Regions from separate parts of the Homo sapiens genome. Here all the other regions are linked to region 3. The links come from fine-mapping of genetic effects on gene expression. A gene starts in region 3. Each other region holds a variant in brackets. All regions are shown on one strand. Distances are between the middles of the regions.

What was found. PIP is the estimated chance that this variant, and not a neighbour inherited with it, causes the effect.
Region 1: its variant is fine-mapped to the expression of NSMF in transverse colon (GTEx, PIP 0.99).
Region 2: its variant is fine-mapped to the expression of NSMF in blood mononuclear cells (TOPMed, PIP 0.94).

The regions. Positions count from the first base shown.
Region 1 is chr9:137,431,499-137,441,161 of GRCh38, forward strand. It overlaps NOXA1 (NADPH oxidase activator 1), which reads left to right. Exons shown (of 14, transcript NM_001256067.2): 9 at 1,531-1,576; 10 at 1,707-1,765; 11 at 1,955-2,109; 12 at 2,252-2,366; 13 at 2,467-2,581; 14 at 2,726-2,908. The coding sequence ends at 2,862. It overlaps ENTPD8 (ectonucleoside triphosphate diphosphohydrolase 8), which reads right to left. Exons shown (of 10, transcript NM_001033113.2): 2 at 6,662-6,807; 3 at 6,469-6,586; 4 at 5,661-5,811; 5 at 5,371-5,530; 6 at 5,023-5,253; 7 at 4,515-4,778; 8 at 4,221-4,331; 9 at 3,706-3,840; 10 at 2,866-3,607. The coding sequence starts at 6,787. The coding sequence ends at 3,416. Among named protein-coding and RNA genes, the nearest start is that of ENTPD8, 5.0 kb to the right of the region's middle. RefSeq lists silencers at 4,547-4,801, 4,763-4,812. The variant G/A (reference allele first, on the strand shown) is at 4,047.
Region 2 is chr9:137,326,757-137,337,465 of GRCh38, forward strand. The region is part of intron 17 of EXD3 (exonuclease 3'-5' domain containing 3); the gene reads right to left. Among named protein-coding and RNA genes, the nearest start is that of NRARP, 30 kb to the left of the region's middle. The variant C/A (reference allele first, on the strand shown) is at 5,466.
Region 3 is chr9:137,454,626-137,465,334 of GRCh38, forward strand. It overlaps NSMF (NMDA receptor synaptonuclear signaling and neuronal migration factor), which reads right to left and starts at 4,709. Exons shown (of 16, transcript NM_001130969.3): 1 at 4,407-4,709; 2 at 3,863-3,924; 3 at 2,782-3,276; 4 at 1,786-1,861; 5 at 1,004-1,009; 6 at 614-682. The coding sequence starts at 4,477. PNPLA7 (patatin like domain 7, lysophospholipase) reads right to left here. Exons shown (of 35, transcript NM_001098537.3): 27 at 9,715-9,831; 28 at 9,501-9,570; 29 at 8,790-8,906; 30 at 8,060-8,208; 31 at 7,554-7,706; 32 at 7,306-7,416; 33 at 6,911-6,995; 34 at 6,009-6,112; 35 at 5,327-5,851. The coding sequence ends at 5,768. RefSeq lists enhancers at 230-1,111, 2,893-3,590, 6,414-7,347, 7,348-8,280 and silencers at 4,230-4,499, 4,590-4,939.

The sequences.
Region 1 (9,663 bases), 24 kb before region 3:
GATGGGAGGATGCCTGGCTGTGCCCGAGGCGAGTGGGCATTGGCCATCAGGACAGGAGAGAGGTGGTGTCCAGTGGAGACATCCACGTAGCCCTGCAGGCCCTCAGCCCCCAGGACCACCTCAGTTTGGCCATTGCCCCTCCCCTCCCACTGGGGTGCGAGTGACCAGGAGTGACCCAGCTGGGGACAGGCGGGAGGCAGGACAGCTCTGGAGGGGCCCCAAGGCTCCCGCCCCCCATGGGGGCCCAGCAGCGACTCCATCCCCCGAGTCCTCCCGGACACCCCGGCACCTGGGGAGAGGCGGAGGAAGGCAGGAACCCCAGCTGCTCCCAGGGTGGCAGCCGTGGGCGGAGGCTCTGCTGCAGGATCCGGGAGGCCCAGAGAAGGCACCTGCATTTCACGCTGAGCGCATCTGAGGATGCGATCAGGAAGCAGCCCCGGCACTCTCTCTTTATGGATGCCCACTTCCAGTTTAACCGTGGCATCCCGGGGGCAAGGGCGCCCTCCAAGCTGTGCTTCACTAATTCCCTCAGGGTTTGGAACTATTTGCCCAGTTCCCACGATGGGCCTTTAAGCTCTCGTCCTTCCTAACCTAAGGCAACTTCAACCATCTGATAAATCTAATAATAAGTTACAATCGAGGCCGGGCACAGTGGTCTGTAATCCCAGCACCGTGGGAGGCTGAGGTGGAAGGATTGCTTGAGCCTGGGAGGTGGAGGCTGCAGTGAGCCATGACAGTGCCACTCCACTCCGGCCTGGGCAAGACAGCAAGACCCTGTCTCAAAAAAAAAAAAAAAAAAAGCCAGGCGAAGTGGCTCACGCCTGTAATCCCAGCACTTTGGGAGGCCTAGGCAGGCGGATCACAAGATCAGGAGATCGAGACCATCCCGGCTAACATGGTGAAACCCTGTCTCTACTAAAAAATACAAAAAATTAGCTGGGCATGGCGGCGGGCACCTGTAGTCCCAGCTACTCAGGAGGCAGAGCCAGGAGAATGGCGTGAACCCAGGAGGCGGAGCTTATAGTGAGCCAAGATGGCGCCACTGCACTCCAGCCTGGGCGACAGAGCGAGACTCCCTCTCAAAAAACAACAGCAATGCCTGACCCTCAGGGTCTAGCCAGCGCTGGGCTGTGACTTTGTGACTTGCAGCTGGTGAACTGGTCTCCTGCTCAGTGCCCAACTCAGGGCACACGGTTAATGTCGAGCCCACACAGAGGCCGGGGCCCAGGGACTGGGTCCTCAGCTTCCTGGGGTCACTGGGGAGCCCACCCACCTGGAGCTGCCACCTCGGTGGGCCTTGGGGGACGGGGCGCTCCCTCCTGGTGACAGGCAGCCTCTAGGTCTGCAGGGACCCAGCCCCATCCTAAGGCAGCCGACTTGTGGCCAGTGCCCTGAATTCAACACCCACAGACCACCTGCTGGGTGCTGGCCGGGCACACAGGCCACACCCTTGGTGTGGGCTCTGCGAGGACAGTACCGGCCTCCAGCACCTGACCGCCCCAGCCCACCCAGCCTGTGCTTCTCTTGCAGAGGCCCCAGGTGGAGCAAGTTGGCAAACAGGCTCCTCTCTCCCCAGGTATGGGCGTCCTCAGCGGCGGGGTCCCCGGGTGAAGGAGGAAGCTGCTGGTGCATGGGTGCCGGCTGCCCTCCACCCACAGGGCCCACTTTGGTGGTAGTGGCTGTGTCAGTCTTGCTCTGTCCTACAGGGCTGCCGGCAATGGGGGGGCCTGGCCCCGGCCCCTGTGAGGACCCCGCGGGTGCTGGGGTAAGAGGCTCTAGACCCTTCACCTGTCAGTCACCTGAGGGAGGCTGAGGCCAAGCCCCATCCCTCAGAATCAAGGCTTGCAAGCCCCCCTCACCTGCCCAGTCTCTGTCCACACCCCTCGGGCTGAAGACGGCCCTGACCAGGCCCTGGGCCTCAGCGACCACCCCTCCCCCTCCTGCCTGGACCCAGGGAGCAGGTGCAGGGGGCTCCGAGCCCCTGGTGACTGTCACCGTGCAGTGCGCCTTCACAGTGGCCCTGAGGGCACGAAGAGGAGCCGACCTGTCCAGCCTGCGGGCACTGCTGGGCCAAGCCCTCCCTCACCAGGCCCAGCTTGGGCAACTCAGGTGGGCCAGAAAGCCCCCGGTGGCTGCGGTGGAGCTGGGCACCGCCCCGACTGAGGCAGCTGCTGGAAGAGGGGGTGGCAGAGGTCACTGCCCTCCCTGCAGGCCCCACCCAGGAGGCCCCCTCTGAGGAATCTCTTTGCAGTTACCTAGCCCCAGGTGAGGACGGGCACTGGGTCCCCATCCCCGAGGAGGAGTCGCTGCAGAGGGCCTGGCAGGACGCAGCTGCCTGCCCCAGGGGGCTGCAGCTGCAGTGCAGGGTGAGCCAAGGGCGAGGCAGGGGCAGGGGCACCCTGAGGGGCGGTGGAGGCCCCTCCTCCCAGTGCCCGGCCCGACCTGCAGCCCACTCTCCTGCCTCAGGGAGCCGGGGGTCGGCCGGTCCTCTACCAGGTGGTGGCCCAGCACAGCTACTCCGCCCAGGGGCCAGAGGACCTGGGCTTCCGACAGGGGGACACGGTGGACGTCCTGTGTGAAGGTAGGGTGGGCATGGCCCTTCCCAGGCAGCACCGTGGTGCCCGGGGTGTGGGGGGCTTAGAGCTCGGCCTGTGCTGTGAGCAGACGTGGCACCCAGAGGCCACGCCTGGGTAACGCCCTGCAGAGCCCGATGTCCCCCTTGCAGTGGACCAGGCATGGCTGGAGGGCCACTGTGACGGCCGCATCGGCATCTTCCCCAAGTGCTTCGTGGTCCCCGCCGGCCCTCGGATGTCAGGAGCCCCCGGCCGCCTGCCCCGATCCCAGCAGGGAGATCAGCCCTAATGATGCTGTGTCCATGATGCTTTTAATAAAAACAACCCCCACTGCAGTCTCACCCTCCAAGTGGGTGTGGGAGGCCGGGCTGGCCCAGCAGAAGCCCCCAGGCCTGGACTCCATCCATCTGCTCAGACAACAGCAGGGAGAGCGGGGGTCCAGGTGGGGCAGCTCCCTCCCTTCCACCCCTCTCCGCCCCTCCTGAGGCCCCATCAGGAGCAGGACCCCTGTGCCTCCGTGGTCTTGCCCTGTTTGCAGGCAGCATGTGGCCCTGCAGTCACACAGCCTGGAGACACCACGAGTCCTGGCGGCCTGTGTGCAGAAAGGCACCTACGGCCCTGGAAGCCCAGTTGCGGAAGGAGGTTGGGGGAGGGACGCCGGGAGGGGAGGTCATGCAGCCTCTGTGGCCAGCACCACCCTGACGGTGCCCTGGAGGTGGCTGTCACCTGACCGTGGGCAGAGCCACAGAGCAAGGCCCCACGGCGCTCAGGGCTCAGGAAGCCTCCAGCATCCGGGACGCAGCTGCCTGTGGGCTCTGTGGGGGCCCACCTCCGCCTTCCCACTAGTCCTGCAACCAGAAGAGCTGGACCAAGGCAGCCCCCACCACCGCCACCAGGGCCAGCACCATGAACACCACTTTGGCCACCCAGACGCCGTAGCTCTCTGCCCGCCACTGAGCCGGCGCATCGGCCGGGATCATCCCGGTCAGGTTCAGCATGTAGCCCAGTGTCCAGCCAATGTCCACACCGCCCGCCTGCGGGACACACGGCTGCTCAGGGCTGCGGGGCAGCTACCCCAGGACCACGACCTGCCCACGCCCACGCCCCGCCCACGCCCAGGGGAGGCAGTCACCTGCTTTCGGAACTCGAGGCTGGGCCAGGTCTCCTCGCTGAACCCGTAGCCCTCGTGCAGGAGGGTGAGGATGTACAGGCCTGAGGCACAGTAGTCCCGCAGCCAGCGGTCCTGCCCAGGGTAGCTGGCCTCCACCTGGGGCCCAGGAGACCAAGAGGCGAGGTGAGGGCCCCTGATCCCCAGTCATGCGGGGACCGCCCCATCTGTCCTGGCCAACCTGAGCACGCAGACAACAAGAGGGTGCCGGGCAGTGGTAGAGAGCCCCTCCCTGGCCCCACCGACCAGTTACGTGGTGCGGGTTGCGGCCCCTTCTTGGCGGGCCAGAGGCTGGGCCCAGCTGC[G/A]GCCGTGGCCACAGCCTCCTACCTGGAGTGGCACGGCCTGGAGCTGTCCTCTGCCCTTGCCTCCCCCGGCCCTGCTGGCCGTGCTGCCCAGAATGAGGCTCCAGCATCCTGCCCGAGGCAGCCCTGTACCCTCAGGGACCCTCGCTGCAGCCAGGGAGCCCAGGGCCCACCCACCAGTTTCCAGGGCCTCTGGCAAAACTCCCAGATGGTGGCGTTGACCGTGCTCAGGGGCTGCCTGGAGGTGAGGTTCAGGAAGTGGAAGGTGTAGTAGAAGTTGGAGAAGGCCTGAGTGAGAGGGGAGGTGGCTGTGCCTTCGCTGTGGCCACGCTGGGCCAGATCCACCCCACCCGGGCTCCCAGAGCCCCTAAGAGCCAGCCTGGGCCCCTCCTGGGCCTGCTGGAGTCAGACAGGCACCTGAGGCCTCACAAGGAAGCCCGGACCCCTGGTGGGGGCAGTGTAGGTGCTCACATAGAACTGGCCCCGCAGCGGGGGCTGGTAGACCCCGTCAAAGGCGCAGTCCTCCTGGCCCTGGCAGCTGGAGAAGTTGAAAAGTTCCCGGATGGCTGAGACGCAGGCTCCAGGGTTGCCTGTCCCTTCAACTGTGAGGTTCTGGGGGAGGCTCAGCGGGGGCGTGGCGTGGACACAGGGTGACTCATACAGCGGGCCCAGGGCCAGTGTGGTCTGGTAGCCGCTGAGGTAGCACGGGTGACGGAGCAGGGCAGCCGGGCGGCTCTGCAGAGGGCAGGGAGGCCTGAGCACCAGCCGCACACCTGCGGCCCTGTGCCCCTCCCCGGGGCCGGATGACCCACGCCAGCCCCGCGCCCATACCCTGTGCGCCCTCCCCGGTGCCGGATGACCCACGCCAGCCCCGCGCCCATACCCTGTGCCCCCTCCCCGGGGCCGGATGACCCACGCCAGCCCTGTGCCCATAGCCCTGTTCCCACAGCCCCATGCACCCTCCCCAGGGCCAGCTGACCTGTACCAGCCCCACGAGGAGCCTGCTCAGCATCTGGTCCCGTCCAAAGCACAGGTAGCTGTGAGTGTAGACGCTGTAGTCGGAGCCGTAGAGGCGAAAATCGGCCTGGGTGCTCTTGTCCAAGATGGGGCCCCCAGGCACGAACGTGATCTGGGTGGAGGCCCCTCCCATGTCCAGGGCACCCACCAGCATCTCCTCCGGAGGCTGGATCCATTCTCCAGTGAAGGAGTACTGGGCACAGAAGGGGCCACTCAGCTGGGAGCAGCCACCCGGACCCCGTCCCGGTCAGCCAGCCCCAGACACCAGCCCCTCGCAGACCAGCCCCCGCCCTCAGGCAGCCTGTGGCACCTTGACCAGCGTCCCCAAGCCGTAGTTGACAGTGATCCAACCAAAGGCACCTTCGGCCTGCCCGGCCAGGAGCTCGGCACCCCAAAAGTCCACGGGAGACCGGCCCAGGACCTGGGTGACTGCTGCAAAGATGTCCCTGGCCTGAGAGCTGTTCTTCCGGCTGGGCACAGAGGACCAGGGGCTGGAGCTGGCTGGAAGCCTGGGCCCGGCCCCACCCTGCCTGCCACGCTGGCTGAGACCATGGCTTCTGCAGCCACTCCCCGTGGGTGCCAAGGCCATGCCTGCCTCACCTGAGCAACCTCATGCCAGCCGTGGCCCCCAGGAACGTGGGTGTTTTCCGATGCTGGGCCTCTGGGATCAGCACCAGCGCCTCCTCCAAGCAGCCCTGCAGGCTCTCACCAGCCTGTGCAGCATTAGAAGTGTAGGAGGAGATTCCAGGCCCTGGAACAGCAGCCGGGGACAGAGCTCCAGACCCCGCAGGCTGGCTGGGCTGAAAGGTAGCCCCCAAAGACATGACCACCTCATGCCCCCTGGTGCAGCCACCAGCCAAGGGCTGCGTGGAGTGCTCAGGCTGAAGGAAGCAGGAAGGACCCTAACCCAGAGCCTCTGGAGGGGGTGCGGCCCTGTCCACACCTTGTTTTCAGACTTCTAGAATGCTGAGAAATAAGCTGCTACTGTTTTAAGCCCCCAATTTGTGGTAATTTGTTACCAGAGCCCCCAGGAAACAAATTCGGGGCCTCCTGTTTTCCCCTCTCAGGATCCTGGAGTGCAGGCACCCCTGTAACTACCAGCCTCGGCTGCCAGCACCACGTGGTGCCAGGGTGGGGAGCACCAGGGGCCAGAGAGGGTCAGGGCTGGAGGCAGCAGATGCTGGGCAGACCCAGGCCAGGCCATGAGAATCTGACTGCTCACCAGGATCAGGCAGGGAGGTCCCCAGAGTGCCACCGCGTGAACGCAGGCTCCGGCCCAGCACCCATGCCCGGCGTGTGAGCTCAGCCAAGTCACTGAACCTCTCCAAACCCTTTCCGTGCAGCTGGGAATCCCAGCCAGGCAGCAACAGGCAGGTCCCAGCACCGGGCTGCAGAACAGCCCACTAACCTTCCACCTGGCAGGCCAGGGCCTGGCTGACCACACCCGTGCCATTCTCCTTGTTCGCCAGCCACTGATACAGGAAGAGGGACGTGTGGGAGGAGCCCGCATCAAACACGATCCCAAACTGGGGAGACAGTGGGATGAGTGGGAGGCAACACCTGTGGACCCGGCCCGGCCTCCCCTGCCGGCGGGGACGCACCTTGATGTCTGTGGGCAGGAGCACGCTGGTGGCCTCCACCAGGAGGAGAATGAGTGCCGTGAGGCCTGAGACCCCCGAGGCCCCCAGCAGGGCCAAGAAGACCTGCTCCTTCCGGGACAGCCCCATGGTGCAGGTGGTACTGGTTCCTGTGGGGGGACGGCCGTGGGCACCCAGGCTGCACTTGGTGTCCCCATCCCGCCCTCCAGAGGCAGAGGCTTCGCTCCCCGTCTCCCTGGAGACGCACCCCTGGACAGCCACTTGCCTTAGAGGCATCTCCGGGGCTCAGACGCCTCCCGTGGCCATAGAGGCATCCCCGGGGCTCAGACGGTCTCCCGTGGCCTTAGAGGCATCTCCGGGGCTCAGGCGGCCTCCCGTGGCCATAGAGGCATCTCCGGGGCTCAGACGGCCTCCCGTGGCCATAGAGGCATCCCCGGGGCTCAGACGGCCTCCCGTGGCCATAGAGGCATCCCCGGGGCTCAGACGGTCTCCCGTGGCCATAGAGGCATCCCCGGGGCTCAGACGCCTCCCGTGGCCAAGGACCACTCCCCAGGAGCCACGCCTGCCAGGGGTGCCATGGGCATCAGAGGGCCCTGTGGGAGGGGGGCGGGGGGCAGCAGAGGCCTCGTCTGGGGACACAGCCCCAGCAGGATCCAAGTAGCCCCCTCGGACCCCCTCGGATGGGACTCGCGGAGCTGCCCCCACCATGTGATGGGGCCACCCTGTGTCCCCACCCCTCGGTCCTGCCTCTCCCGTGCCACCCTCCCCAGGAGCAGCCACAGCTCCAGCCTGCACTGGGGGCCCAGGGCTCTGCCTCCTCTCTGCGGCCCCCACCCCAGGCACTCCTAGGGTGGGGGTTTCTCTCTGGAGCCCTGAGGGGACTGTTGCCGAGGGGCTGTGGGTGAACCCAGGGTGAGGCCAGCCATCCTAGGAAGCCGAGTGTGAGGCTTCTTAACAACATCGGTTTCTCTGGAAATCCAGCCCAAGGCTTCCCTAATCTGACTCTGCACCTTCTTAGCTGGTGCCAGATGGCGCCTGGTCGGGAGGTGGACCCAGGGATGCCATCTGAGGGGCCTGGGCTTCTCTAGCCCTGTGGCCGAGGTGTCCACCTCCTCCTCTGCCCAAACGCCCAGCAAGGGTCTCAGCTCTCAAACTACCCCAGGCCGACCCTGTGCCCCATACAGCCCCACTTCACACGGGTACCACTGCCAAAGGAGTGGTCAAAGCCAGAGGCTGCCTGCCAAGGTCCCGGCACCTGAACCCCATGTGACCGTGTCCTATCGTGTTCCCCCGGGAAACGTTGCACCCACACTGAGTGGCAGGCGCGGGTGCTGCCCTGGTCCTGACCTGGGGCTCCTGGGCACGTGGAAAGTGGGACACGCTGTGGGGTCCTCACGCAATTCTGTATGTCCGGGGGATATAAGCCCATTTTAAGGAGGGTAGATGACAGAGGCTCAGAGAGGACAGGAGGCCGGTCCAGCCCAGACAGGGCCCAGCCTGTGTCCCCAACCAGCACCCAGGCCATAGGCCACCTCATAGGGACAAACAGGTGACAGGGGCCAGGAACACAGGGACTCCACACCCAGAAGATGTAGCCACCTGAGACCCCCAGGCCTGAGCCTCCAGGTAGGCAAAGAGGTTGGGGCAACCTCTCCCACACTCAAAAGACCCCCAAGACCAGAACAGCCTCCCAGATCAGAACAGCTCCTCAGACCAGGAAAGCGCCCCCCAGACCAGAACAGCCCCCCCGAGACCAGGACAGTGCCCCCAGACCAGGAGAGCCCCCCAGACCAGGACACCCCCTCAGACAGAACAGTCCCCCAGACCAGGACAGCCCCCCAGACCAGGACAGCCCCCCCCAGACCAGGAGAGCCCCCCAGACCAGGACACCCCCTCAGACAGAACAGTCCCCCAGACCAGGACAGCCCCCCCAGACCAGGACAGCCCCCCAGACCAGGACAGCCCCCCCAGACCAGGACAGCCCCCCCAGACCAGGAGAGTCCCCCAGGCCAGGACATCCCCTCACACAGAACAGTCCCTGAGACCAGGACAGCCCCCCCAGACCAGGACACCCCCTCACACAGAACAGACTCCCAGATCAGGACAGCCCCCCAGACCAGGACAGCCCCCCAGACCAGGACAGCCCCCGCCAGACCAGGACAGCCCCCCCCAGACCAGGAGAGCCCCCCAGACCAGGACACCCCCTCACACAGAACAGATTCCCAGACCAGGACAGCCCCCAGACCAGGACAGCCCCCCCCAGACCAGGACAGCCCCCCAGACCAGGACAGCCCCCCCCCAGACCAGGAGAGCCCCCCAGGCCAGGACACCCCCTCAGACAGAACAGTCCCCCAGACCAGGACAGCCCCCCAGACCAGGACAGCCCCCCCCAGACCAGGAGAGCCCCCCAGACCAGGACACCCCCTCAGACAGAACAGTCCCCCAGACCAGGACAGCCCCCCCAGACCAGGACAGCCCCCCAGACCAGGACAGCCCCCCCAGACCAGGACAGCCCCCCAGACCAGGACAGCCCCCCCCAGACCAGGACAGCCCCCCCAGACCAGGACAGCCCCCCAGACCAGGACAGCCCCCCCAGACCAGGACACCCCCTCAGACAGAACAGTCCCCCAGACCAGGACAGCCCCCCCAGACCAGGACAGCCCCCCAGACCAGGACAGCCCCCCCAGACCAGGACAGCCCCCCAGACCAGGACAGCCCCCCCCAGACCAGGACAGCCCCCCAGACCAGGACAGCCCCCCAGACCAGGACAGCCCCCCCAGACCAGGACACCCCCTCAGACAGAACAGTCCCCCAGACCAGGACAGCCCCCCCAGACCAGGACAGCCCCCCAGACCAGGACAGCCCCCCCAGACCAGGACAGCCCCCCAGACCAGGACAGCCCCCCAGACCAGGACAGCCCCCCAGACCAGGACAGCCCCCCCAGACCAGGACACCCCCTCAGACAGAACAGTCCCCCAGACCAGGACAGCCCCCCCAGACCAGGA
Region 2 (10,709 bases), 130 kb before region 3:
TAAATGGTGTGGCCGCCGTGGAAAACAGTGTGAAGGTTCCTCAAGAAGTTAAACACAGAGTCAGTAGAGGATTCAGCAGTTTCACCTTTAGCTGTATATGCAAAAGAACTGAAAGCAGGAACTCAAGCACATCCTCATACATCAGTGTTCGTAGCAGCCACATTCAAAAAAAAAAAGGAAGGACGTTCCGACACAGGCTACGTCGTGAATAAACCCTTACGACACGCCGAGTGAAAGATGCCAGATACAAATGGGCAGATACTATATGATTCCACGTCTACGAGGTACCTAGGACAGGTCAATTCATAGAGGCAGAAAGTGGAACAGTGGCCACCAGGGCTAGAAGGAGGGGAGGGGAGATAACTATTGGTACGGAGTCTTTTTTTTTTTTTTTTGAGACAGAGTCTTGCTCTGTCGCCCAGGCTGGAGTGCAGTGGCACGATCTTGGCTCACTGCAAGTTCTGCCTCCCGGGTTCACGCCATTCTCCTGCCTCAGCCTCCTGAGTAGCTGGGACTATAGGCGCCCTCCACCACGGCCCGCTGATATTTTGTATTTCTAATAGAGACAGGGTTTCACTATGTTAGCCAGGATGGTCTCGACCTCCTGACCTTGTGATCCGCCCGCGTCGGCCTCCCAAAGTGCTGGGATTACAGGTGTGAGCCACCGCGCCCGGCCAGTATGGAGTCTTTGGGATGATACCCAGTTCTGGAAAGGGGTGGTGGTGATGGATATGTGATACAGTGAATGTGCTAATGCCACTGAATTGTACACTTAAAAATGGTTAAAATGGTCAATTTCGTGTTATGTATGTTTTACCACAAAAAGAAAGAAAAAAAGGGAAACAGAAAGTAGTTACTTCGTGGTAATAACAAATATACACCCATATGATGAGTAAAAACAACCAATATATACCTATATGATGAGTAAAAAACTGATATACACTCATATGATGAGTAAAAACAACAAATATACACCCACATGATGAGTAAAAACAACTAATATACTCCCATAGGATGAGTAAAAACAACAAATATACACCCACATGATGAGTAAAAACAACTAATATACACCCATATGATGAGTAAAAACAACGAATATACTCCCACATGATGAATAAAAACAATGAATAAACACCCACATGATGAGTAAAAACAACTAATATACTCCCATATGCTGAGTAAAACAACTAATATACTCCTATATGATGAGTAAAAACAACTAATATACACCCATATGATGAGTAAAACAACTAATATACTCCCATATGATGAGTAAAAACAACGAATAAACACCCACATGATGAGTAAAAACAACTAACATACTCCCATATGATGAGTAAAAACAACTAATATACACCCATATGATGAGTAAAAACAACGAATAAACACCGACATGATGAGTAAAAACAACTAATATACACCAATATGATGAGTAAAACAATTAATATACTCCCATATGATGAGTAAAAACAACAAATATACACCCACATGATGAGTAAAAACAACAAATAAACACCCACATGATGAGTAAAAACAACGAATAAACACCCATATGATGAGTAAAAACAACTAATATACACTCATATGATGAGTAAAAACAACGAATAAACACCCATATGATGAGTAAAAACAACTAATATACACTCATATGATGAGTAAAAACAACTAATATACACTCATATGATGAGTAAAAACAACTAATATACACCTATATGATGAGTAAAAACAAAAGTAAAAACAAACACAACTGGTAAATAAAGTAAATATACGGGAAAAAACCAAAGGAAACGGGTCAAAGGGAAGAAACAGACTAGTTACACAGGAGCTACACGGGACTACACGGGACTACACGGGGCTACACGGGACTACACGGGACTACACGGGGCTACACGGGACTACACGGGACTACACGGGACTACACGGGGCTACACGGGACTACACAGGGTCACACGGGACTACACGGGACTACACGGGACTACACGGGGCTACACGGGACTACACGGGACTACACGGGGCTACACGGGACTACACGGGACTACACGGGGCTACACGGGACTACACAGGGTCACACGGGACTACACGGGACTACACGGGGCTACACGGGGCTACACGGGACTACACGGGACTACACGGGGCTACACGGGACTACACAGGGTCACACGGGACTACACGGGACTACACGGGGCTACACGGGGCTACACGGGGCTACACGGGAGCTACACGGGACTACACGGGGCTACACGGGGCTACACGGGGCTACACGGGAGCTACACGGGGCTACACGGGGCTACACGGGGCTACACGGGAGCTACACGGGACTACACGGGGCTACACGGGACTACACGGGGCTACACGGGGCTACACGGGGCTACACGGGAGCTACACGGGAGCTACACGGGGCTACACGGGGCTACACGGGAGCTACACGGGACTACACGGGGCTACACGGGGCTACACGGGACGACACGGGGCTACACGGGGCTACACGGGAGCTACACGGGGCTACACGGGGCTACACGGGAGCTACACGGGGCTACAGGGGGCTACACGGGGCTACACGGGACTACACGGGAGCTACACGGGGCTACACGGGGCTACACGGGACTACACGGGAGCTACACGGGAGCTACACGGGACTACACGGGGCTACACGGGGCTACACGGGGCTACACGGGAGCTACACGGGAGCTACACGGGGCTACACGGGAGCTACACGGGAGCTACACGGGACTACACGGGGTCACACGGGACTACACGGGACTACACGGGACTACACGGGGTCACACGGGACTACACGGGACTACACGGGACTACACGGGGCTACACGGGACTACACGGGACTACACGGGGTCACACGGGACTACACGGGACTACACGGGACTACACGGGACTACACGGGGCTACACGGGACTACACGGGACTACACGGGGTCACACGGGACTACACGGGACTACACGGGACTACACGGGACTACACGGGGTCACACGGGACTACACGGGACTACACGGGGTCACACGGGACTACACGGGACTACACGGGACTACACGGGGTCACACGGGACTACACGGGACTACACAGGAGCTACACAGGACTACACAGGACTACACAGGACTATGCAGGACCACACAGGAGCTATACAGGAGCTACACGGGACTACACAGGACTACACAGGACTACACAGGACTATGCAGGACCACACAGGAGCTATACAGGAGCTACACGGGACTACACAGGACTACACAGGAGCTACACAGGACTACACAGGACTACACAGGACTACACCGGAGCTACACGGGACTACACAGGAGCTACACAGGAACTACACAGGAGCTACACAGGGCTCCACAGGAGCTACACAGGAGCTACACAGGAGCTACACAGGAACTACACCGGAGCTACACAGGACTACACCGGAGCTACACGGGACTACACAGGACTACACAGGACTACACAGGAGCTACACAGGAACTACACAGGACTACACAGGAGCTACACAGGGCTCCACAGGAGCTACACAGGAACTACACAGGAACTACACAGGAGCTACACAGGAACTACACCGGAGCTACACGGGACTACACAGGACTACACAGGACTACACAGGAGCTACACAGGAGCTACACAGGACTACACAGGAGCTACACAGGGCTCCACAGGACTACACAGGAGCTACACAGGACTACACAGGACTACACAGGAGCTACACAGGACTACAAAGGAGCTACACAGGAGCTACACAGGAGCTACACAGGACTACGCAGGACCACACAGGAGCTATACAGGAGCTACACAGGAGCTACACAGGGCTCCACAGGAGCTACACAGGACTACACAGGACTACACAGGACTACACAGGACTACACAGGAACTACACAGGACTACACAGGAGCTACACAGGACTGATGGACTTCTCGAGGGCAACAATGGAGCCAAAAGGTAGTGGAGGGTTTTCAAAGTTCTGTAGAGCTACAAGAATAAACCCGGCAACACTCTCTTTCAAGAAAGAGGAAACAGAGCTTATTAGAAAGGAAAAATGGCCCCAATTAAAGAACAAGGAAAATTCATTAACACGAAGGAGTTTGTCATTTCCCAGAGGAAGGTCTGCCATGCAACAAGTGGTCCACACATCATCAACACTAAAAGACGTCAAGACCATAAAACAAACATGATAATGTCTAATTTGCAGAATTAAGGAAGACAGCATCGTGTTAACATTCTGGAAGATGACAGCAGGGAAGGTATGAAAGACAAGTTGACCCTGCAAACGGAATCCAACAGCACATTAAAGCAATAATTCACCATGACCGAGTGAGTTTCATCCCAGGGATTCAGGGGGGTTCAACATGTGCCAGTCAGTAAGTTTGATTCATCACCTAAACAGAATTAAAAACAAAAACTACACGATCATCTCAGTAGATGCATACAAAGCACTTGACAAAATCTAGCATTGTTTTACGATAAAAATCCTCAACCAACTAGGCTTGGAAGGAACATACCTCAAAATGATAATAGCCATATATGACAAACCCGCAGCCAACATCATACTAAATGGGGAAAAGTGGAAACAGTCCCCCTGAGAACTGCAACAAGACAAGGATGCCCTCTCACCCTCCCACACTCACCCTCCCACCCAACATAGTATTCAAAGTCCTGACCAGAACTATCAGGAAAGACAAGAAAGAGAGGGCATCCAAATGGGAAAACAGGAGGTCAAACTATCTCTGCCAATGTTATGACTGTATACCTCGAAAACCCTAAAGGCTCCTCCAAAAGACTCCTCGATTTGACAAATGGATTCGGTGAAGTCTCAGGTTACAAAATAAATGTGCACAAATCAGTAGCACAACGACCAAGCTGAGAAGGAAACCAAGAACTCAGGCCAGGCGCGGTGGCTCACGCCTGTAATCCCAGCACTTTGGGAGGCCCAGGTGGGTGGCTCACTTGAGATCAGGAGTTTGAGACCAGCCTGGATAACATGGTGAAACCCCGTCTCTACTAAAAATACAAAAATTAGCGAGGTGTGGTGGTGCACGCCTGTAGTCCCAGCTACTCAGGAGGCTGAGGCAGGAGAATTGCTTGAACCCGGGAGGTGGATGTTGCAGTGAGCCGAGAGGGCGCCACTGCACTCCCGCCTGGGCAACAGGGTGAGACTCCGTCTCAAAAAATAAAAATAAATAAATAAAAAAGTGAAAAAAGAACTCAATCCTTTTTACAATATCTGCGCAACGACAACACACACACACACACAGAACAAACCTAGGAATGTACTTAACCAAGGAGGTGAAAGACTCTACAAGGAGAACTACAAAATACTGCTGAAAGAAATCATGAATGACGCAAACAAATGGAAATACATCCCATGGTCATGAATTGGAGGAATCGATATTGTGAAATAACCAAACTGCCCAAAGCAATCTATAGATTCAGTGCAATTCCTATCAAAGTACCAACATCGTTTTTCACAG[C/A]ATTAGAAAAAACAATCCTAAAATCTGTATGAACCAAAAAAGAGCCTGAATAGCCAAAGCAGTCCTAAGGAAAAAGAACGAATCTAGGCCGGGCGCAGTGGCTCACGCCTGTAATCCCAGGACTTTGGGAGGCCGAGGCAGGTGGATCACAAGGTCAGGAGATCGAGACCAGCCTGGCCGACATGGTGAAACCCCATCTCTACTAAAATACAAAAAATTACCGGGCATGGTAGTGGGCACCTGTAGTCCCAGCTACTTGGGAGGCTGAGGCAGGGGAATCCCTTCAACCTGGGAGGCGGAGGTTCCAGTGAGCCGAGATTGTTAAAGGGTACATGGTATTGGCCAGGCGCAGTGGCTCACGCCTGTAATCCCAGCACTTTGGGAGGCCAAGGCGGGCAGATCACAAGGTCAGGAGATCGAGACCATCCTGGCTAAAACAGTGAAACCCCGTCTCTACTAAAAAGCACAAAAAAACTAGCCATGCATGGTGGCGGGCGCCTGTAGTCCCAGCTACTTGGGAGGCTGAGGCAGGGGAATCCCTTGAACCCAGGAGGCGGAGATTCCAGTGAGCCAAGGTTGCGCCACTGCACTCCAGCCTGGCGACAGACTGAGACTCTGTCTGTCAAAAAACAAAAAACAAATCTGGAGGCATCACATTACCCAACTTCAAATTATACTTGTGAGGGTTTATATTGAGTGTCAACTGGATTGAAGGATGCAAAGTATTGATCCTGGATGTGTCTGTGGGGGTGTTGCCAAAGGGGATTCACATTTGAGTCCATGGACGGGGAGAGGCAGACCCACCCTCAGTGGGCACCGTCTAATCAGCTGCCAGTACGGCTAGAATAAAGCACGCAGGAGAAGATGGAAGAGCAGACTTGCTGAGGCTTCCGGCCCCATCTTTCTCCCGTGCTGGATGCTTCCTGTCCTCGAACATCAGACTCCAAGTTCCTCAGCTTTTGGACTCTTACACGTACACCAGCGGTTTGCCAGGGGCTCTCGGGCCTTTGGCGGCAGACTGAAGGCTGCACTGCCAGCTTCCCTGCTTTTGAGGTTTTGGGACTCAGACGGATCCACCACTGGCTTCCTGGCTCCTTAACTTGCAGACGGCCTGGGTGAGACTTCACCTTGTGATCCTGTGAGTCAACTCTCCTTAATAAACTTCCTTTCGTATGCACATCTATCCTATCAGTTCTGTCCCTCTAGAGAACCCTGGCTGACACTATACTACAAGGCTCTGTGGTATAATTTGAATGTGTCCCCGCCCAAATCTCATCCTGAAATGCAAGCCACGGTGTTGGAGGTGGGGCCTGGCCTGGAGGGAGGCCACTCGATCATGGGGGAGGATTTCTCAGGAGTGGCTTAGCACTGTCCCCCTTGGTCCTGTCCTTGCCTGGTCGTTTAAAAGTGCGTAGCGCGTCCCCTCTTGCTCTCTCGCTCCTGCCTTCACCATGTGACATGCAAACTCTTGCTTTGCCTTCTGCCAGGACTAGACATTTCCAGAGGCTCCCAGAAGCAGATGCCAGTGATACGGTTCCTGTACAGCCTCCAGAACCATAAGCCAGTTGAACCTCTTTTCTTATAAGTTACCCAGTCCCAGGTATTTCTTTTTTTCTTTTCTTTTCTTTTTTTTTGAGACAGAGTCTCACTCTGTCACCCAGGCTGGAGTACAGTGCAGTGACGTCATCTCCGCTCACTGCAACCTCCGCCTCCCAGGTTCAAGTGATTCTCCTGCCTCAGCCTCCCGAGTAGCTGAGACTACAGGCGCCCACCACCAAGCCCAGCAAATTTTTTTTTTTGAGATGGAGTCTCGCTCTGTCACCAGGCTGGAGTGCAGTGGCGTGATCTCGGCTCACTGCAATCTCTACCTCCTGGGTTCAAACGATTCCCCTGCCTCAGCCTCCCGAGTAGCTGGGACTACAGGCACCCGCCACCACACCCGGCTAATTTTTTGTATTTTAGTGGAGACGGGGTTTCACCATGTTGGCCGGGCTGGTCTCGAACGCCCGACCTCAGGTAATCCGCCCACCTCTGCCTCTCAAAGTCCTGGGATTACAGGCGTGAGCCACTGCACCTGGCCTCAGGTATTCCTTTATAGCAATGTGAGAAGGGACTAATACAGTATAGTTACCAAAACAGCATAGTACTGGTATAAAAGTAGATACATAGACCAATGGGATGGAATAGAGAATCCAGAAATAAAGCCAAATACTTACAATCAACGGATCTTTGACAAAGTATAAATAAACATCCGTTGGAGAAAAAGACACCCTATCTAGTAAGTGGTGCTGGGAAAACTGGCTAGCCACATGTAGGAGAATGAAACTGGATCCATACCTCTCACCATATACAAAACCCAGCTCAAGATGGATGAAAGACTTAGATGTAAGACTCGAACCATAAACATTCTAGAAGGAAATCTAGGAAAGCTCTTCTGCACATTGGCTTAAGCAAACAGTTTTGACTAGAACCACAAAAGCAAATGCAACAAAAACAAAAATAAATAAATGTGACCTAATTCAACTAAAAAGCTTCTGCACAGCAAAAGAAATAATCATCAGAGAAAACACCAGCCCACAAGGCCGGTGGCTCACGCCTGTAATGCCAGCACTTTGGGAGGCCGAGGCGGGCGGATCACGAGGTCAGGAGATCGAGACCATCCTGGCTAACACAGTGAAACCCCATCTCTACTAAAAATACAAAAAATGAGCCGGGCATGGTGGCAGGCGCCTGTAGTCCCAGCTACTCGGGAGGCTGAGGCAGGAGAATCACTTGAATCTGGGAGGTAGAGGTTGCAGTGAGCAGAGATTGCACCACTGCACTCCAGCCTGGGTGACAGAGCGAGACTCTGTCTCAAAAGGAAAAAAAAAAACAAACAAAATAAAAACAAATAGCCCACAGAATGGAAGAAAATATTTGCAAACTATGCATCTAACGAAGAGGTAATATCAAGAATCTACAAGGAACTCAAACAAATCCGCAAGAAAAAAACAAAGAATCCCATCAAAAAATGGGCAAATGACACATGCATAGACATTTCTCAAAAGAAGATATACAGATACGCAGCAAACGTGAAAAATCGCTCAACCTCACGAATCATCAGGGAAATGCAAATTAAAACCACAATGAGATACCACCTTGCCCTAGCCAGAATAGACATTATTAAAATGTAAAAAAGACCAGGCGTGGTGGCTCATACCTATAATCCCAGCACTTTGGGAGGCCAAGGCGGGCGGATCACGAGGTCAGGAGTTCGAGACCAGCCTGCCCAACAAGGTGAAACCCGGTCTCTGCTAAAAATACAAAAAATTAGCCAGGTGTGGTGGCAGGTGCCTGTAGTCCTAGCTACTCAGGAGGCTGAGGCAGAAGAATCACTTGAACCCGGGAGGCGGAGGTTGCAGTGAGCCAAGATCGCGCCATTGCACTCCAGCCTGGCAACAGAGCTAGACTTCATCTCAAAATAAATAAATAAATAAATAAATTAGTACAACATCTGTGAAAACAGCATGGAGATTTCTCAAAGAACTAAAAGCAGATCTACCGTGTGCTCCAGCAGTCCCACTACTGAGTATCTACCCAAAGGAAAAGAAGTCATTATATCAGAAAGACACCTGCGCACATGTTTATCACAGCACAATTCACAACTGCAAAGACATGGAACTAACCTAAGTATCCATCAAGCAATGAGTGGATTAAAAAAATGTGGTATATATATACCATGGAATACTACTCAGCCGTAAAAAAGAACAAAATAATGTCTCTGCAGCAACTTGAATGGATCTGGAGGCCATTATTCTAAATAAAGTAACTCAGGAATGGAAAACCAAATACTGCATGTTCTCACTTATAAGTGGGAACTAACCTATGGGTACACAAAGGCATGCAGAGTGATATAATGGACACTGGAGGCTCAGAGGTGGGGAGGGCAGGAGGAGGAGTAAGGGATAAAAAGACGACATATTGGGTACAATATATACCATTTGGGTGACAGTGCAGTAACGTATCAGACTTCATCATTACACAATTCATCCATGTAACCAAATGCCACTTGTACCCCAAAAGCTATTGAAATATATGAAACATAAATCGATGTAAGATCCCTGACTTAACTGTAACTTTAGATATCGTTAACTCAAATATACGTGTTAACATTTCTCGGCCATGTGTGGTGGCTCACGCCTGTAATCCCAGCACTTCGGCAGGCTGAAGCAGGTGGATTACTTGAGGTCAGGAGATCGACACCAGCCTGGCCAACATGGCGAAACCTCATATCTACTAAAAATACAAACATTAGCTGGGTGTGGTGCTGGGTGCCTGTAGTCTCAGCTCCTCAGAAGGCTGAGGCAGAGCTGCTTGAACCTGGGAGGCGGAGCTTGCAGTGAGCCGAGATTGTGCCACTGCACTCCAGCCTGGGTGACAAAGTGAGACTCCGTCTAAAAAAAAAAAAAAAAAAAATTCTAGGGCAATCCCTACAAAGAAAAGAAATAAATCCATGGCAAAATATGCATATTTTAAGAAAACAAGGAAAGCAATAGCAATAGAATTTATAGCTTTCAAATTGACTGAAGGAAAAATAGAATGAAGGTAAAAAAGCTAAAAGCATGAAAAAAAAGAGGAAAAAGAATAGAAAAAGTTGTACAAATAGAAAGCACAAATTAAGATAGTACGACTAAACCCAAATTCTATCAATACTTAACAATAAACATAAAAGGACTAAACTAATAAGTTAAAAGGCAAAGACTGTCAGACTAGATTTTTTTAAAAAACCCAACTAGAAACAGTTTACAAGAAACACACCTACTATATAAAAGAAGGTTGAAAGTAAAAGGATGAAAAAGTGCTTTACGAGTAATAACCAAAGAATAATGGAGAAATGGTATTAATGTTAGTTAAAATATATTTTATAGCAAAGAGCATTACTGGAGTCAAAGAGGTTCACCACATAATTATAAAAGATTTCACACAACAGAAAGATATAAGAATTCTAATAATAATATGCATATGCACCTACTAACATAACTTTAAAACATATAAGGCAAACACTGACGTAACTGCATGGAAAATCTGATGAATGTACCATCACAGGAACCTTCTGTATGTCTCTCTTGGTAGAATCAGGCAGAAAAGTAAATAGGATAAAGATGATTTAGGCTGGGTGCGGTGGCTCACACCTATAATCCCAGCAGTTTGGGAGGCCAAGGCGGGCGGATCACAAGGTCAGGAGTTCCAGACCAGCCTGGCCAA
Region 3 (10,709 bases):
CAGCCTTCCAGGGCTCCCCTTCAACTCCAGAACAAAGGTGCAGTGCCTGGCGCTCTGGATCAAGTCTCCTCCCGAGCTGCATTCCCAGGCTCTGACCTTCCGTCCTCGCCCGGGACTTACGCCCTGAGCCTCCACGCCCATGTGGCAGAGGATCCAGCCTGCCTGCGCTGCAGCAGAGCGGGGCTCCTGTCTGCACCACCCCATGGCGGGCTGGGGGCCTGCAGGAGCCCCCTCTCCTGCTCTGTGTCCTTGAGCCACCTCAGGGGCAGGTCCTCTCCTCCACCAAACTTTGGACCCTGCCAAGGCCCAACATCCAAAACGGGCAAAAAAGCTTCCCAGACACATCTGTGTGATTGGAGTGGGGGAGGGGGGCCTTGCTGCTGGCCCCAGCCCAGACAGAGACACGTGCCCTCGGAGTGCAGGACTGAGGGTGAGATGCTTTCCTGCAGCCCGGGCCACATGGCCTCTCCTGCCTGCCACGTCCCCAGAGCAGGGCCAGGCCAGTGGTCGCCACCACCCTTCCCCCATCAGGTCTGCCAGGGCCGAGGGGGCCCAGGCCAGGCCAGCACAGACCAGAGATGGACCCTGGTGGCGAGTGGCTGGCAGGCCCTACCTCTGGATTACAGACGCGGAATCATTCTCCCGTTTCCGGCGCTTCCTCTCCGCGTAGCCCCTGAACACCCTGGGAAACCACCGCGAGTCAGCACTGCCCTTGGCCGGAGGCAGGAGGGACACAGACGTCGGGACAGTGGTGCGAGCAGAGGGCCCAGCAGGGCGTCTGGGGCACGGGGCCCGGCAGAGGAGTCCCAGCCTGCCTCACCTGTCGAGGCCCAGCTCCCAGCAGGCCCTGCTGCGACCTCGGTGCCCGCTGGGAGCCAGGCCCGCAGAGAGCGGCACTCCCTCAAGACCCAGGTCCCTGGCCTGCCCAAACCTATTTGGGGTGGGAGGGTCTCCCCAGGGACAACAGCTGTGCCCTTAGGCACCAAGTCATACAGGTACTTACGAGATGCTGAAGCCAGGGCCAGAAGGGATGGCGTGAGAGAGAAGACACAGTGAGCTCAACCCCGGGCCTCCCCTCAGCCCCCACCCGGTCCCTACAGTTCCCTTCTTGTCACTGACCCAATAGGTCCCTCACAGGTAACCCAGCCACCAGCAGGATGCTGGCTACACTGCTGGCCAGCCCTGAATGGGCAACGGAAGCTGATGTCACTGCAGCCCATGCCACAAGGACTGGTTGCTGAGACCAGGCAGCCTGAGGCTGGGTGTGGGGTGGACTCCCCCGGGCAGGACACTTCTTTGGTGTGGGGACCAATGCAGCAAAGGGAACTTCCCTGGAAGGAATCCCAGAACAGAAAAGCCAAATGTATGTCAAGACAGAGAGGAGCAGGTCCCTGCGGGGACCCTGAAACTGTGATGACCTATGGCACGTATGAAACAGAAGTAGGCTTCTATTTGGGGTTTGAGGGAGGGCAGACACAGGCTGAGGAGAGTGGATAGGAGCAGGAGAACCTGCCACACCCCACACCCCACTGAGAGCTCATCAGCTGCAGCCCTGGGCCAGGTCCCCTGACTGTGTGTGTGTGGGGGGGGGGGCTGGGCACCAGCCATGGGAGGGGAAGAGCAGTCAGCCCTGGCCTCCCTGGCAGGCCTGGCACAGCATAGGCACGTGGGTCTGTTCAGAAGCAGCCCCCCTGGTAGGCCCAGAGACTGGGAAAAAGTGCTGTTTCCTGAGCAGCAGAAAGAGACCACCCAACCCTGACCCCAAGTCGTGGGCACAAGACTCACGCTTGCATAGTTGTGGTTGCTGTCTGGAAGCTGAAAAGATTTTCCTTGGGGAACCAGGTACGAATAGGGATGTCGTCTAAGAGAGACAAAAAGGAGCGGTGGCTGGGTGAAGTAGGGGTTCCTGAAGCCTCTCCCTCCCTGTTGGGAAGCAGATGCTTCTGGGTCCAGGGGTCAGCAGAAGCTGGCAGCCAGGGCGGGTGGGGGGAGGGTGGCATCCCCACACGGGCACAGAGGGCAGTGCTCGAATGTCTGCTGCTCACTCACCAAGACCACGCTCTTGGTAACTTGACGCTTTGATTTTTTTGGCTTAACTTTCCCTTTGGCCACCCAAAGTTTGAGAAACATTCCTTTGAAAGCACAGTCTGTCTCCAGGAGGCCCAGGAAAACAATGCGTCTGTTTCCCTTGGGCAGAAGAGGCTCTGAGGCCTTCTCTGCAGCCCCCATGCTCTAGCTGGAGGCCCTCACCGAGGCTAGAGACCACCTTGCTGAGGGCTGTCCCCTTCCGAGGGCCCCCACAGCCTTTCCCTGATGCCCAAGTGTGGGGACAGTGGAGTGACTTTCTGCCTGGTGGACAAGCTACCACACAACTCAACAACCCTGGGGAAAGATGCCCACTGCCTGGCTGGGCCCCAACAGCTCCCCAGGACTCTCGGAGGGCAGCCCAGTCTCCTGATTAAGCGGTGCTTCCTCCCTACATATCCCTTAAGATCCTCCCAGGCCCCCTCCTCCAGGAAGCACTCCTTGATTGACCTGGTGCTAGCAGGGCGAAAGCGGACTGTGAGGCCTGGCAGATTTTGCTGAGGAGCTGAGGGAGCTCACAGCTCATAGGGTGTGGAGGCCGCAGCAGAAGCCTGCCGGTTTTAATCTTGAGTCCGCTGGCATGCTGTGACCTGAGCACCTGTTCTCTGTTCCAAGCCTCACAGTGGCTGCTGCTGTCAGACCCTGGCAGCGGCATGCACCCCCAAACCTGTCTATGCCCTGACACAAACCCCTCACCAGACACACGGTCAACGCTGTACATCCTCTCCAGCTTCTTGCGGCGACCGGAGGTCTCAGGCAGAGGTGGCTGGTCCAGCCCAAAGGCCCGAGGGGTGGGGCCAGGAGCCAGCTGGGCACATCCGGGGCACTCCTTGGAGCCCTGGCGGCTGCCCGCCCAGCTCTGGCAGGGCCTGCTGACGTCCTCCCGGCTGCCACCAGGGCTGGCGCGCAGGGGCTGGCTGTGATGGTGAGGGTGCCGCTGCCGCCGCCCCTTCACCACCGCCAGCTCAATGGCCTCCGCCTCAGGGCTGGGCAGCAGGGCAGGCTCCCCAGAGATGGTGTACACTCGAGGCTGAGGGCCCTCGCCTGCGGGCTTCCTAATGCTGGGCTCCTCTGAGAGGCTGCCCTCGTAGCAGCCGTTGGAGACGAGGGACAGGCGGCGCTTGTTCTGGGGGGCCGGCTGCATCTCGGGGGACCCGTCGTGGCCAGAGTAGGCATCAGCCAGCAGGTGATCTAGGAGAGACACTGAGTGAGCCTGCCTGCCGCGTGTGGGCCCCCCGCTGCCGGTTTCATAGCAGGCCGAAGGCAGAGAACACCCAGTGGGCACCTGGCCTCTGTGGGGGACTAGGGCTGCCCAAACCCTAGTCACTGGCGTGTTTCTGAGCCCCTCACTCCTATCTGGGCCTGAAGCTCTAGCATGTGCGTGGGGGCTGGGTGACGCTGTGCTACCTGTGTGCGGTCCTGCCGGGTAGGAACACGCAGGCCATCCCCCAGCCTGCGATCGCACCGTTTGCCTGGTGCCAACTTCCCCCTCCCCCCACCAGCTGGCCCCCAGAGGCAGTGGTGCCAGCCCTGGGGGAGCCAGGAGGCCTGTTGCCATGCCAACGGCCCAGGCGGGGTGGGTGCCATGGTGACGAGCGGCTGGGAACTGCTCCTGGGGCTCGGGCAGGGAGGGCAGGGGATGTAAGGAAGCCAGGCCGGCAGGGCGCCGGGCCCACGCGCAACCAATGCCCCTCACGCTCCACCCCCGGAGGCAGGGATCAGCATCCCTTGGGCTGGGGGGTCTGGGCGGCCCTGGCACGGCCTCGCGTGCCCCTACCTGCGCCGTTGCGGTTCTCAGGGTGACTCTGGGACAGGTACTCTCCAAACGCTCGGGCTGCTCTGAGGGTGGACAGAGGGCACGGTCAGAGGCCACGGCACGACCCTCCCAAACACCGGGCCGCGCAAGAGCCGGGGGTCCGGTCCCCAGCCAGGCCCTCGGCGTCTGGAAGGAGGGTCGGGGTCGTCCCCCTCCGGGAGCCCACACACCCTTGGTCCTGGTGCGCCCTGGCCAGGCCTGCAGGCCCGGCCCCTGCCCGTCGGACCGTGGAGAGGGGTCGCGAGGCCGGTCGGCTGCTGTTCCCCGGGGGAACCGAGGCCACTCCCGACCTGGGGGGTGCGCTCGCCCACCACGCGCTCGCGAGGGGAGGGGAGGGAAGAGCAGGGCAGGGGACCAGGAAGAGGGAGGCGCGGGGCGCGGGGAGGGCGCCTCAGTGGCAGAGGCCGGGGCCCGGGAGCCCGGGGAGCACCGCGGGGCAGGGGCGGACTCGGGCGGGGTCGGAGGTCCAGGGCGGGGTGCGGGAAGGCGGCCCCGCCGCACTCACCGCACTTTGGCCGCCACCGAGGACATGGCCTCGCTCCTCAGCGCCCTCCTCCTGGAGGCGGCGGCGCCCATGGTCGAGGCGGCGGCGCATCCCCCGGGCCTCAGAGCGCGCCCCGCGCCCGCCGCCTCCGCCGGGGTAGCCGCGCCGCACCGGGGGTCGCGCTCGGGCTCGGGCTCGGGGTCTCGCTCGGGCTCCGGCTCGGGCTTGGGCTCGGGGTCGGGCTCGGGGTCGGGCCCGGTCCCCGCATGGCCGCACCCGGCGCTCCGCGCGTGCCGCCGCTCCCGGGAGAGCGCTGCCCGAACCGAGGGCCGGCCCCGCCCATCGTGACGTCAGGGCCCGGGCGGGCCCAGAGGGGCGGTCGGCCCCACCTACCGTGACGTCAGGGCCCCGGAGAGCTCGGAGAGGACATGTGGCCCCGCCCACCGTGACGTCCGGGCCCGGGTTGAGTTGGGGGCGGGGCCGGGCGGCCTGGCTCCGCGCCCTCTCGTCCAGGCCTCCAGAGCGGGGAAACTGAGGCCAGCGGCCCCCTGGTCGCAAAGTCCTGGGCCCTCGGCCCTCACGATCTGCTGCTCAGACCTGCAGGATCACAGGGAGGCCGGTTCTCCCTCCCCTTACACAAAAGGGCTCCCTGTGCAGTTTGGGAACTGGAAACCGAAGGGGAAGCCAGTTTAGGGGGCACCCAGTTTGCACGAGGCCAGAGAGAGACAGAGGGGCCCGTCCTGGTCCTGGGGGGCCACAGCTCTATGCAGACTCTGGACGCCCTACCTGCCTGGCCTGCATTTGCCGCCCTAGGGCTCTCAGGCCCCAGCAGTGGGGTCCTTTGAGGAGGACTGGGGACTGCCCAGCCTCAGGGACCACCCGCATCAGGGAGAACCAGTAGTGTTTCTTTGCCACAGGGACCTCGGCCCGGGAGACACGTCCAACAGTGAGATCCACCTTTATTGAAACATCACACGGCAGCATCAGGGCTCCCACACCTCACAGGGCAGCAGGCAGTTCACAGGACAGCAGGCAGTTCACAGGGCTTTGGGGGCCTCACAGGGCAGCAGGTGGTTCACAGGGCTTCGGGGGGCCTCACAGGGCTTCGGGGGGCCTCACAGGGCTGCAGGGGGTTCACAGAGCTTCAGGGGCCTCACAGAGCTTCAGGGGCCTCACAGGACTGCAGGGGGGCTCACAGGGCCCTGTATGCAGGGCTGCTGGTACAAAGAAGAGGCCCAGAGAACCCTAACACAGCCTGGGGCCCCGGGGAAGTCAGGGCTTCCAGCAGGGCAGGTACAGAGGCCCCTAGGACTTGGCAGGAGCCTCAGCCTTGGGGACAGTCCCACGGAAGACGCTGCATCCGGGCTCTTTAGCAGAGGCCTCTACCCGTCCTGGTCAGAGGAGCCCTCAGACAGTTTTGGGAAAGCCAGACTGGGGTGTCGATGCCGCAGTGAGGACTCGTCCTCCTGCAAGCAGACCGCATGTTCCAGGTGAGGACCAGGCAGGGCAGGGGCTCTGCAGCGCTGGTAACCCGGTGGGACCACAGGGAGGGAGTGGCCGGCACAGGGCCAGGCACCAAGGCTCAGCTGTGGGCACCAGGTGGGACCATGCCCAGCTCCTCACCAAGTCTGAGCCCTGCTGGGCTGAGGTGCTCTGGAAGTCTGCGTATGCATCCCTGGGGACGTCCAGCAGCTCCTCCTCGTACTCCGTCTGGTAGTCAGATTCGTCTGGCACCGAGGGTAGGGCTGCGTCAGTCCCCTCCCAAGGAAGGGACCGTACCCAGCATAGCCACACTCAGAGGCAGAACCGGCCACAGATGCCCACCCCCGCCTCCAAGGTGGCCCGGGGCCCTACACGCAGCCACCTGGTCCCAGGGCAGCCCTGCACACCACCCCTGGTTCTGTCTGGCTCCAGCTTTGCCCCAGCACATCACTTCGTGGGTCTTCCACAAGGACAAGGAGCGGGCAGACACTCCTCCCCTTGTCAGCCAAGCACCCTGAGGGCTCCAGCACCCCAGACCTGGCAACTGTGGATAGGGGCTGCCTTGCCCAGGGCCCTCTCGGCCTGCGGCAGCCATGAAGACGTCTCCCAGGAGAATGTCCAGTTCTGCTGTGAGGAGGCCACTGGCTGAAGGCCCAAGCGCAGGGCCCTGGATGGAGCATGGAGGGTAGTGGACCCGCCCTTCTTGTCCTGCGGCCCCTCCAACAAGCAGCCTTCATTCCCATTTCCCACTGGGTGGGGTGGGAGGCAAAACGTGGTTCTACTTCAGGCCTGAGGTGTGGCTGGGAGTTGAGGTGAATGAAGGGCAGGGGCTGGGTGACCCGGGGTGGTCACAGTCCCACTGCTGTGGGAACACGTGGTGCCCGGGACGGAGGAGTGCCACCAAGCACCCCAGCTGCTGGAGCCTGGGCGTGGACGTGGGCGGGAGGGGAGGCCGTGGGCCTCTGGGGTGGGGGGGTTCAAGCCCAACACAGCATCAGGAGGTCACGCACGTCTCCACGGCTTCGTCTTGCGCCTCCACTCACCATCCACCATGGCGGGCTTGGCGGGCTCAATGCGAGACACAATTTCGGCAAGGTCCGTGAAGGAGGCGTTGGGACAGGTGAGGACCTAGGGGTGGGGTGAGGACAGCACGTTGCCTGTGGACACCCGCCTGCCAGTCCCCAGCCTGCTTCCTGTGGGGAGGCCCCACCCACCCTGCGCCCTCTCTGCAGCCTCCGCCTGCCCCCCAAGTAAGGGCAGGGACCGGGGAGATGCGCAGTCCTGAGCAATCCTTGTCCTGGCCCTGGAGTCTTTGGCCAGGGGGGCAGGGCCTGTGGCCTGAGGAGCTGGGCGTGGCCTGATGAACTGGGCGTGGGCGTGGCCCGAAGAACTGGGCGCGGTCCGGGGAGCTGGGCGTGGTCCGGACGCCCGTACTCACCGCACTCGCGGGCTTCTTGCTCGGCCCCTGCTGGTCGCGGAGCATCTTCTCCAGCACGCCGCTGCGGCCCCAGATGTCAAACACCGTGCGCCCGTGCTGGTAGCCCACTTCCTGTGCACACCCCCAGGGCCCCGTCAGGAGGTGTGGGGAGCCCCCCACTTCCTGTGTTCTCAAAAGGGGGAAGCGAGGAGGGGCAGCCACCAGAGTGCCTCCGCCCGCCTCCGCCGCCGCGGGTGGCCGGCACTCACGCAGATCTCGTTGAACTTGCCGAAGTCCAGGGTGCTGTAGCTGTCGATGGGGGGGCGCAGGTACTCGCAGTAGTCACTGCTCTTCACCACCTCCAGCTGCCGCACGCAACACACGTAGGCCAGGCGCGTCTGAATCTCTGCCATGTTCAACACCTGCTGCCGTCACAGCCGCCTGAGTCTCCTGCCCCGGCCCCTACCCCGTCCCAGCCTGGCCCGTGGCGCAGGACAGGTTCTGGGGACCCATCCTCTGGGGTAGGTAGGTTCTGGGGGGAGAGGGTAGCAGCACCCGGCCGGGGGTCCTCCCTGCGGGCTGCCACAGCCTTCAGGCCCGTCCGGCCTCGTGCCTTCCTTCGCCCGAGTTGGGCTCAGGCAGGGGTGGTGAGGGGTGGCCCCAGACCTGCTGGCCTCAGAGCCCAGGAGCGACCCCCACTCCCCTGCCGCAGGACAGGTGTGGAGCTGCAGGGAGGAGCAGCAGGGACAGCCCAGCCTGCCCGGTAGCACCCCACCTTGACTTTCGTGGCCAAGGGGTTCCAGCGTTTCCACAGCAGCCACCACCCAGACAGCGCATCCCCATAGTTGGTGAGGTCCGTCTCATCTCGGCTGCCCACGTCAATGGCGATCACCACTTTTGCCCCCATGGACCGGGCCACATCCGCTAGGGAGAAGCCAGCCCTGGTTACCCCCTGGACAGGCATGCAGAGCCAGGGGACGGGGGCAGAGCCTGCCTCTCCGAGCCCTGACGTGGGGGTTGTGGGGTCTCCTCTCCGCCATTACACCTTCTAGAGGCAGAAGACCCACATGCCCAGCTCGATGGGCAGCTGTGGGCACACGGCTGTGTCCTGGGCCTTTCTGACCGTATATCCCACAGGTGACAGGAGTGGCCTGGCCTGGCCCCCAGCAAGCTCGACACCTGCAGGCTGTTAGTTTCTGACTGTGGGCACAGATGGGGCTTAATTGCTCCCAGTTCCTCGACTTGGCCTTTGTTCTGCATGCTGCTGAGCTGACAAACAGGGCCATATGCTGGAGCACATGCTGCCGGTGCCTGCGTGTGCATGTACACGCGTGTGCATGTTCTCGGAGCTCTGATGCCAGCCTGACATTTTCCCTTGGCATACTCTAAGGAAAACGTGTTCCAGCCCAGGCTTCTTGGAGCGGAGGCAGCTGTGGCAGGGGCCGTGGGGCGGCGTGACCCAGGAGCCTGTGCTCCTGCCGGGCGTGGTCCCCCCACCGCAGTACCTGGGAGGTTGTTGATGTAGCCCCCGTCCATCAGCAGGTGTCCGTCCTTCGGGTCACAGAGAGGGGGCATGTAACCGGACAGGGACATGCTGGCACGCACGTACCACCACAGGGAGCCTGGGGAGGGGGCCCGGAGCTGCTGGTTACCCGGAGGAGGCTCCTCCTGGGTCCAGGGTTCAGGGCCTTGCCACTGCAGTCCTGGAGCTGGTAGGTCCCAACTCTCTGAGGCCGCCTCCACAGAGGGAAGCTCATGGCCCAAGGGCTGAACAAAATTGAGTTCTTTCTCTGGGGTCGCACTGCATTACATGTGCCCAGGACTTCGAACTGCTGTGACCCCCTCACCCCAGGACTGAGGGAGCCCCTCACCCCATGACCGAGTGAACCCCTCATCCCCCTGAACCAGGTGAGCCCCTCACCCCAGGACTCAGGGAGCCCCTCACTTTGTCCTCTCACATGGTATCCATCAGTCTAGCCCAACATTGCTGATTCTGTGAGGGTCTCCTCCAGCCTTCTGAGGTCTCTGGCCCAGGCCACGCCCCCTCCTGTCTGTGCCCCTAGTAGGGGCATCCTGTGTCCTCCATGGACAAAGCTGCCCATACGTCTGCATCCTTCAGGAGACCCCGCGGCCTTCCCAACCCCTGGGGCTGCTGAGCTCTCCCCCTGCCCACACCTCGCACCCAAGCGGCCGCCCTGCGCAGCAGGAGTGCTCACCGTCGGTGTGGACCCGCATGGCCGAGGCTGTGATGTCGGTGGTGATGGCGAAATAAGGAATCCACAGGTCCTGCGGGCGGACGGGGCTCAGATGGGCCCTCTCCCATCACGCTCCTGTCCTGTGTCTGGGGAGGCTGACCCAGGGCCAAGAGGTGGGGGGCCAGGAGGGGACAGGCACTGGGGGCTGCATGGGCTCCTGAGGGTGGGGGTGCACCTCGATCTGCTGGTCCTTGAAGACGCTGAAGATGCTGCTGTTGAAGCCGGCTCCGGAGAACATGGACGTGATGGGGTAGGTGAGGTCCAGCGCGGCCTTCATCAAGGACGTCATGCCCTGGGGCCACATGTGGAATTTACAGAAGGCTTCCACCCTCCCTGCGGGCTGCCACAGCAGACACGTGGCGTGCTGAGGGCCTCTCATGAATGGAACGGGGGTCCAGAGTGTCCTTGGGCCCCACCCACGGTCCTGAGGCTTGGCGCCCTGGCTGGAGCCTCAGAGTGAGCAGAGGCTGGTGGTCGCCCCAGGGCCTGAAAGCCAGGACACAGCCCACCCTCGGTCCCTTCCTGATCCCTAAGCCCTCGCTGGCCCTACCCTCGCAGGCTCTGCAGCGCCCCCATGCCTGGGGCCTCCTCGGCTTTGCCTGCTCAGCTCTGGGGCAAGGCCTGCCCATGCCCGTGGCTGGAGGGTCAGCGAGGAGGAGAGCTCGGGGCGGGCTGCTGGGCACATGAGGTTCCTGGGCCAGGGGGACACAGTGGATTGCTTTCGGGAAGGTCAGAGCCACCCAGCCCTGGCTCACATGCCACTGCGGTACTCCATCAGGGGTCCCGGGGAAGCCGGGCTCTCTTGGGTTCCTTCTGGGTGGGCCTGGGGCCCATCCTTCCTCAGTGAGGCAGGCAGGACTCGAGACTGACCTCAAACTAGCCTCAATGCCCAGTGTGGATGGAGAGGAAGGGTCTTCCCTGCCATAGTGAGCCAGGGCTCAGGGGACGGAGGCTGGGAGGGAAGCGCTTGGAGTGTGGGCTGGACGTGCTTACACCGTGTGATGCAGGCAGTGAGAACGCCTCGGCCACAGGCAGAGGAGACCCCGGTCCTTCCCTGAGGAAGCCCCTGCCCAGTACCAGAGGGGCTCACAGAGATAAGCCAGACCACACGCCCACTGTCCCCTCTCCTCAGCATGAGGGGCAGGCACACAGCCCCGGCCTCACCTTGCC